Linked DNA regions of Homo sapiens: region 2 is linked to region 1. Evidence: fine-mapped expression QTL. A gene starts in region 1. The other region holds a variant in brackets. All regions are shown on one strand. Distances are between the middles of the regions. Region 1 holds the start of ZG16B (zymogen granule protein 16B). Region 2 has its middle 11 kb from the start of FLYWCH2.

Evidence for each region. PIP is the estimated chance that this variant, and not a neighbour inherited with it, causes the effect.
Region 2: its variant is the best candidate, but not a certain one, in a credible set for the expression of ZG16B in monocytes after LPS (Fairfax 2014, PIP 0.53).

Annotation. Positions count from the first base shown.
Region 1 is chr16:2,828,197-2,832,585 of GRCh38, reverse strand. It overlaps ZG16B (zymogen granule protein 16B), which reads right to left and starts at 2,283. Exons shown (of 4, transcript NM_145252.3): 1 at 2,258-2,283; 2 at 2,093-2,171; 3 at 1,790-1,892; 4 at 310-790. The coding sequence starts at 2,144. The coding sequence ends at 427.
Region 2 is chr16:2,870,219-2,874,607 of GRCh38, reverse strand. No RefSeq gene overlaps it. Among named protein-coding and RNA genes, the nearest start is that of FLYWCH2, 11 kb to the left of the region's middle. The variant T/A (reference allele first, on the strand shown) is at 2,177.

The sequences.
Region 1 (4,389 bases):
AGGCCCCTTGAGCACTCAGAGAATCCCGGGACTGAGTGGCCAGCAGAGGCCCGCTGGGTGGGCCTGGGGTGAGGGACAGTGGGGAGTGGCGGCCTTGAAGCCTGACTCTTCAAAGATTGTGGGACTGGCACAGAGATCCACAGCACCTCTGAGGGGGTGGTGCTGCTCTCTTTCTGTCCTCGGCAGAGTCACCTTTGCCCTACCCCTCATCTCAGTTCACTGGGCTGCAGCACTGGGGACTTTGTCTCCAAGGAGCAGGGAAGGCTTTGGTTGTACCCCAGATCCAAGGACCAATCCTGGATGCACTGATTCTGCAGAACCTTTATTTATTGGTGGATTCAGATTCAGCGTCCCGACTCAGTTACTCCAGTACCATCAGCCACCACCACCCAGATGGCCTCAGCTCGGATGGCCCCATACCCCACCCTAGCGACCCACGGGTGAGTTTGCTGAGTATGTGAGATTAACTGGTGGCTCAGTGGTCGGCTCCTCTAGTGGATAATTCCATTCAAAGCCAATGCTCTTGATGCCAAGGAGTTGATACTGGCCATAGATGCCCACCAGCACCTGCCCCTCTTGGCTGGGGTAGGCAGAGGAGATCTGGCCATCAAGCTTCCCAAAATAGAAATAGCGGTCCTTGCTGGTGTACATGACCATACCCCGGAGGAAAGCTTGGAAGGCGACAAAGACTTTTGTGATGTATTCGCCTGGCTGCAGGGTGACTTCCTGGGTATTCCCACCTAAGGCTCCCAGTTTCACGTCCCAGGAGTCTCCAAGTTTCACCTGGACACTGGGAGAGAGGCAAAGCTTTGGACGTCCAGATCTGGGATGGCCCAGCACATCCCGGGTCCTCAGCGCCCCCATCCTCCTTCCCGGGATGCAGAGAGTCCAGCACCATCAGACTTTGGGTCCCTGACACAGACTCACTGGTCACCAACCCTGATTCTACCACTTTTGGGCCCTGTGATCTTGAGCTCGTTACCCAGCCTCTCCGGACTCAGTTTCCCCGTCTGCAAAGTGGGTGTGACTTTTGGGAGGAGTCACTGAGATCCTGGTGAGGAGAGCTGCGTGCAGCGCCAGGTCTCCGTGACCCAGAAGGCACCAGCTGCCGTCACTGTGGCCCACATATGAGCTGCCTCTGGCCGAGCCTGGACCTCCCGAGCCTTAGTCACTCCAAGCAGAGCAGCTCACAGGCCGAGGGGCAGGTGACTTCCCACACTCGCCAGCGCTTCCCTGACGGGGCTCATCTTCACCCCTCCCTCACCCTGGTGCTCTCCCAGGATGCACCCCTCCGGCTCGCCCCGCCCACACTCTGTCTCCTCTGCTATTGGGCTTCTCTCCCCTCTCCCAGGACCCCAGAACTTCTAAATGCAGGGCAAAAATCCATCCCAGACCTCCAGCAGAGACACTTCGATATTAAGGAAATGGCCCTGGACTTCTGCCTCTAACACTTCTGCGACTCATATTCAGTCAGTGGTCCACTCTGACCCTTACCTCCTGTCTTCTTTGACAGTAATCGGACAGACTTTCCCCTGACTTTCCTATCAGGCATGGGGACAGAGGGGCCATTTTTGGTTGAGTTGAGCTTGGGTTGAAGGGAGAAGGTAGGGAGGACGGTCTGACCGTCTCCGCTCCAGCCAGGAAGCATCAGCGGGAGCCAGGAAGCATCGACAGTAGCCAGGCATGTGTGGCAAAAGTGGCCACGGGTGCTTACCCCCTGCCCTGAGTTCCTGAAACTGTGGGATGGGAGGGGACATGGCGCTGGGCCCATGACCATAGCCCTACTCACCTTTTCACCAGGAGAAGACCTACAGACACCCGCAGCCCTGTGATTTCATGGTCGTAGTCTTCAGTGGTGCTGAAATACTTGCCTCCTCCAGGGCCATACATCTCTGAAGAAAAGAGAGACCCAAAGGGAAGAAAATCCCCATGCGGTGATATGGGGGTGACCTCTGCCAGAACAGGGGACCCCACCCCTCCAGGCAGACAGGATGGTTCTGTGACCAGAGTTAGTCTGGGACAAGGGCCGGGTGAGTCCCTGGCTCTCCTGGAGGGAGGCAGGGGAGATTGAGGGCAGACCCCACTGACTTACTCCCTGCCCAGGTGGGGCCCCCCAGGAGGGCAAGCGTGAGCAGCAGCAGCATGGCCTCTGGCCGGTGCATCCCAGGGCTCTGTGGGAAGAAGAGAGGCCTCCTGACTCCAAAGCAAGGGCCAGTGTGACCTTGCCGGGCCCCACCCATGGAGCCAAGCACCTTACCTCGCCTGTGACTGGGCGTCTGGTTGTGCCGGGCACCCTCCACATCGCCTTTATACTCTCCTGGGCCCCCTGGGCCCCCATCCAGAAGGAAGAAGCGAGGGGCCGCCAGGGGAACAGGAAGGAGCTGGCCGTGGGGCTCTTCCTGGGGGAAGGCCCAGGGCCGGCCTTGGGGAGGCTCCCGGATGTGCAGTATTTGCTGTCTTGGCTCTGCAGCCTACATAAACGAAGCTGAGAACAGTGACAGGCATTTCACAGTTATCTCTGGGATCTCTCCAGTCAGCACTGGCACCGACTTGAATGGCAGAGGTGGGGAGAGGCTGGCTTATCCAGCGCAGCCTGATGGCTTCCACCTGAGGGTGGCGGGTCAAGGGTCCACAGAAGCTCCGTGGGGCCCACTCCTGCCGTGGGCGACCTGGAGTCAGGGCCTCCTTCGGACTCAGGCAGCACCTGGTGCCTGGCAGCCTTCCTGGGACCCAGGCCGAGCTCGACGCGGGCCCTGAGAGAGCCTGAATGGATCACCCAGCCCTTTGTGTCCTGTGCCCTGTGCGGCAGGTGCACCAGGCACTGGCCCTCAAGGCACTGCCCTTAGAGGCTGCCCGGGTCTCTCCTCTGTGCTGTATCTGGGTGGAGCAGGTATGAGCCAGTGTTCAGGGACTCAGAGGCCATGGGAGGGAAGGACACCAAAGGTGCAGTCCATGCCACGATGGGAGGCAGAGGGCCTGGGGAGGGCGACCCCCCAGGCCGGTCCTTCCGAGGTGTCGGCCCTCATCTGGGCGGGAACTGGCGCTTCTCCAGGGCTCGGTCCCCGGGGCCCTGCTGGTTTTCTGTCTCACTCCTTTCCCCCTCAGCCCCTCTTGTCAGGGAGGCCTGTGCAGGCGGATGCCTGTGGGCAGAACGCCATCACCCTCAGACGCCAGCTGAGAAAAGCTCGTGTTCGGAGATGTCTCATCCCAAGGACCCTGAAGGACCCAGGGCACTGGGAAGGAACTGGAGTCTGCAGAAGAGTTGGGGTGTCGGATAAGGATCAGGGGAGAAGAGATAAAGGCCGTCAGATGCCCAAGCGAGGCGGGAACTAGGGGACAGATTGCAGCTCAAGCGCAGTTCCATGCGTGTCCTCAGGACACCTCTTGTGTGTGTTCCAGGGACTGAAGCTCCTCAGGGCCTGTGACCGCTGGGAACAGCCACAGGGCTGTGATCACCAACACAGGACCCTGGAGCCAGACGTGGGTCCAGCCGGGCTTCCTGACGTAGCGGGGCTGGGATCTGCGGGCTCTTGCTTCACCTCTCTGGGCCTCTGTTCTGCGGATAACAACAGAACCTCCCCCTGAGGGTGCTGTGAGGGCCTCCCTGGAGGGGAGGCCCCCAGGGCTGGTTGCCCTGAGCCTTAGACTTTATGCCTTGGGGGAGAGTGTACAACGCTAATTTTTGGAAAGAGCAAAAGCTGAGAAATCACGGGCGCATCCACCTGGAGATGCCGAGAGCCCGGGTGGTGGATCCCTGGCTGTGGAAAACTTGGGTGGAGAGGGTGGGGGACACTCCCACTGCACACCCATCCCCCAGGGAAACAGGCTGGAAGACCAGTGTGTGTGGACCCCACATGCTTCCCAGGAAGATGGGTGCAAAGAAGGGCTTTGTGCATGCACAGACTGGCTCTGGAAGTGCTGGCTCACCAGGAACGGGGACGCCGGTCTCATCGGGATGAGGGTGGGCAGGGGCTGCGGGAGGAGCAGGACTTTCACGACTTGAACCAGGTGCCTGCGCCAGGGGTGGCGAACTATGGCCCAGCCAACCACCTCCTGTTTCTGCCTCGCCCATGAGCAAAGAATGCTTCCTACATGTTAATATTCTTAGGAAACATTCAAAAGAACGATGTCTTGTGGTCCATGAAAATTCTTTGAAATTCCCATGCTCCAGTTCATTAAGTCAAGCGTCACTGGCCCACAGCCGCCGTGCGCTCATTGGCATGTGGCCTGTGGCTGTCTTCATGCTTGCACAGAAGCTCACATGGCTGTGACAGAGACCTGCAGCCCCTGAACCTAAAATTGTACCATCTGGCCCTTCACACAAAACGTCCGCCCACCCCTGGTTGATACCTATTCCCAAAGAACCACCAAAGCCCTGTCCGTGGTGCT
Region 2 (4,389 bases), 42 kb before region 1:
CCTCTTCGGCCTCCCAAAGTGCTGGGATTAGAGGCGTGAGACACCACGCCCTGCCCCTCCCCCATTTCTTAATCCAAACACCTCAGCTTTGCCGGGGTGCAGGCTGCTGAAGGCACCCACGCGGTGGGCAGGGGTCCTGTTGATCCCTTCAACTTGGTGGTTTCATGGCAATTTGACTGCTTTGGACTGTCCACAAGTGACAGGGATTTAGCCACACGGATTTTTGAATTATTTATGATAGTGAAACAAATATGAAGTGATACAGATGTCCATTTAATCATTTAAATGATTAACAATTAAATGAAACGTGGTCTATCCCTGCAATGGAAATACAATACATGCTACGACGGGCATGAACCTTGAAACATGATGCCAAGTGAGAGAAGCCACACACGAGAGGCTACATGAGTTCATTTATGTGAAATGTCTGGAACGGGCAAATTCAGAGACAGAAGGTGGACTACTGGTTGGTTGCCAGGGGCTTGGGGGAGTGACTGCTACTAGGGCACTAGTTTTCTTTTTGGGGGTGATGAAACATTTTTGGAATTAATGATTATCAATGCACAACTTTGTGAACAGACCAAAAGCCACGGAATTGTACACTTTAAAATGGTCAATTTTCTGGCCGGGCTCAGTGGCCCATGCCTGTAATCCCAGCACTTTGAAAGGCTTGAGGTAGGAGGATCACTTGAGATCAGGAGTTTGAGACTATCCTGGGCAACATAGGGAGACCTCATCTCTACTAAAAACAGAGTGGGTGTGGTGGTGTGCGCCTGTGGTCCCAGCTACTCAGGAGACTGAGGCAGGAGGATCGCTTGAGCCAGAGAGGTCGAGGCTGCAGTGAGCTGAGATCGCACCATTGCACTCCAGCCTGGGTAACAGAATGAGACCCTATCTCAAAATAAAATAAAATGGTCAATTTTATGGCATGTGAATTAAATCTCAATTTAAAAAGAAGAAAGGAATGGTCAAGAAAGTGGCAGATCTATTAAAATTGCCCCTCAAAAATGGTTTGAACATCAGTAATTTCACTTTTTCCACATAATTTATCTTAAATACCAGAAAGTAAAACTAAAATGTCTTTTTTTTTTTTTTTTTAGATGGAGTCTCACTCTGTCGCCTAGACTGGAGTGCAGTGGTGTGACCTCAGCTCACTGTAACCTCCACCTCCTGGGGTTCAAGTGATTCTCCTGCCTCAGCCTCTGGAGTAGCTGGGATTACGGTCATGTGCCACCACGCCTGGCTAATTTTTGTATTTTTAGTAGAGACAGGGTTTCACCATGACCTCAGGTGATCCACCCGCCTTGGCCTCCCAAAGTGCTGGGATTACAAGTATGAGCCACAGTGCCTGGCCTTAAAATATCTTTTGCTTCTTGACTTTAGACGTGTATTTTCTGCATATTTTCATAACCTTTTTACACTAAAATTACTACTTGTTTATACTGCATGTCAATTGTTAAGCTAATTGTTACATTGTTGAAAACATTCACTGATATATTTTATATTGATACTTTCCTCATTCTGGGGTTCCATTGTCTTTTTTCAATCAGATGTTTTAAGTGTTGAAAAAAATCCTGGCCTTTATGGGTGAGGAAGGAATGTTTATTTCAGTAGATGTCAGCTCAGAATCAAATTACCAATGCGCAAAGCCTAGGCACACACATTCCTAAAGTATTTGGTTTCAATCGTGGGATAAATATAGCTTGAACCTAACCTTCCTTCCCCTTCCCCTTCCCTCCCCTTCTTTCCTTCCTTCTTTTTTTTTTTTTGAGAAGAAGACCTAAGAATCATGAGTTTGTATGCACCTAACATCATAACCTCAAAGATATAAAGAAAAAATGGGCACATTACAAATAAAAATTGACAAAGTAACCCCTATAATCATAGTGGGAGATGTAACAACTCTATAACAATTTTTTTGTTTGTTTGTTTTGTTTTTTAGACAGACTCTCGCCCTGTTGCCCAGGCTGGAGTGCAGTGGTGCGATCTCGGCTCACTGCAAGCTCCACCTCCTGGGTTCACCCCGTTCTCCTGCCTCAGCCTCCTGAGTAGTTGGGACTACAGGCGCCCGCCACCACGCCCGGCTAATTTTTTGTATTTTTAGTAGAGACGGGGTTTCACCATGTTAGCCAGGATGGTCTCCATCTCCTGACCTTGTGATCCGCCCACCTCAGCC[T/A]CCCAAAGTGCTGGGATTACAGGCATGAGCCACCGCGCCCAGCGAACAAATTTTAATACTTTTTTATTATTTATAAAATAATATGAGCCACTGCACCTGGCCCCAGCTTGGTTTTGATGAGAATTGGCCTGGAATATCTTTTCAGAATTCCCTTCCATGTTATGATGACTGGCCTTAAGAGAAGTTTGTGCAAGATCAGAAGGTTTAAGTGAAGCATCAGCCATGCAGCTCTGGGGTCAGCGTGGGGAGTGGGGATGAGTCCCCATCGTAGCTCACTGTGCTGCCCGCTTTGGGCAGTAGCCAGGCCCTCGGCTCCCTCAGCTCCCACCATGTCTCCTCCATTGGCTGCTCAGAGTCTGAGCCAGGCGTGTGCAGAGTTGAGGTAGCAGGCAGCAGCTTATTCTGTTTGATATTGAGGCTGTAGGCAGTGAGAGACAGATGTGGCTCCATCTTCTCACACTCCCTGCTTCACACATAATTTTTTCCTATTAGCGCTCCTTGCTACAACCAGCTTCAGCCAACGTAGGTGCAGAAGTCAACTGGAGGCAGCTCCCTGGGCTTGCTCCCATAGTCACGGAAAATCCAATCCCTATACTTACTTTATTAATTTAATTTTATTTATTTTGGAGACAGGGCCTCACTCCATTATCCAGGCTGGATTTCAGTGTTGCCATCACGGCTCACTGCAGCCTCTATCTCCGAGGCTCAACTGATCCTCCTGCCTCCGCCTCCCAAATTGCTGGGATTACAGGCGTGAGCCACTGAGCCTGGCCTAATTCTTTTTTTTTTTTTTGAAACAGTGTCTTGCTCTGTCACCCAGGCTGGAGTGCAGTGGCACAATCACTGCAACCTCTACCTCCTGGGTTCAAGCGATTCTCCTGCCTCTGTCTCCCGAGTAGCTGGGATTACAGGCATGTGCCACCATGCCAGCTAATTTCTGTATTTTTAGTAGCGACGGGGTTTCACTATGTTGGCCAGGCTGATCTTGAACTCCTGATCTCAAGGGATCCACCCACCTCAGCCTCCCAAAGTGCTGTGATTACAGGCGTGAGCCACTGTGCCCTGCTGTAATTATGTTACATCGCTCCTTGAGGGTTCTGCTTCCTCGATCACACAAATGAATTTTACCCTAACAGATATATACAGATATATCTTACGTTGATGTCATTTTAAATCACTGGGGAATGAAAAGATGATTGATTCAATAAACATTGCTGAAAAAATTACTTAACATATTTGGAAAATAGTATATCTTTATATTGTTCATAAAAATGTTTTTAAAACCTCAAACTATAAACATATTGGGAAAAGTAGAATATGCTTGCAACCCTGGAATACAGAAACAAAATGCAAACATCATAAGGATCGAAACGTAAATATATCAAAATTATAAGTTATTTAGAGGCGGTTTTTCAGGTTTGACCTACAGATTGTTAAAATAAAAATTATTGGTAGCCAGACTCAGTGGTATGAGCCTGTGTTCCCAGCTACTCGGGAGGCTGAGGCAAGAGGATGGCTTGATCCCTGGAGTTCAAGGGTGTGGTGCACTATGGTCACGTCTGTGAATAACCACTGCACTTCAGCATGGATAATATAATGATACCCTGCCTCAAAAAAAACCTGAGGGATTCACTGTGAGTCAAGGCATCCAGCTATATGCTAAAGTTGAGCAAATTTTACAAAATGCTGAGAGAGAAAAGAGATAAAAGGATAGACAGACAGACATGCTTGAATGGAGCTTTGGGGATAAAGGACATTGTGGGCCAGATATACAGCCACCAACCTTCGGCCACGCTGCGGAATCAGGATTCATTCTTGGCTAGATTGCAGAGACAGGGCAGGAGACACAGCTGAAGAGCTGGTTCGCTGGAGACAAGAGAGCTCAAGCCTGGAGAACAGTAAAGAACCTCCCCTGCCAGGCGCAGTGGCTGACACCTGTAATCCCAGCACTTTGGGAGGCCGAGGAGGGCGGATCACGAGGTCAGGAGATCGAGACCATCCTGGCTAACACAGTGAAACCCTGTCTCTACTAAAAATACAAAAAATTAGCTGGGCGTGGTAGCATGTGCCTGTAGTCCCAACTACTCAGGAGGCTGAGGTAAGAGAAGTGCTTGAACCCAGGAGGCTGAGATCGCACCACTGCACTCCAGCCTGGGTGACAGAGCGAGACCCCGTCTCAAAAATGCTCAGTCTGCAGTGAGAAACTCTAACCC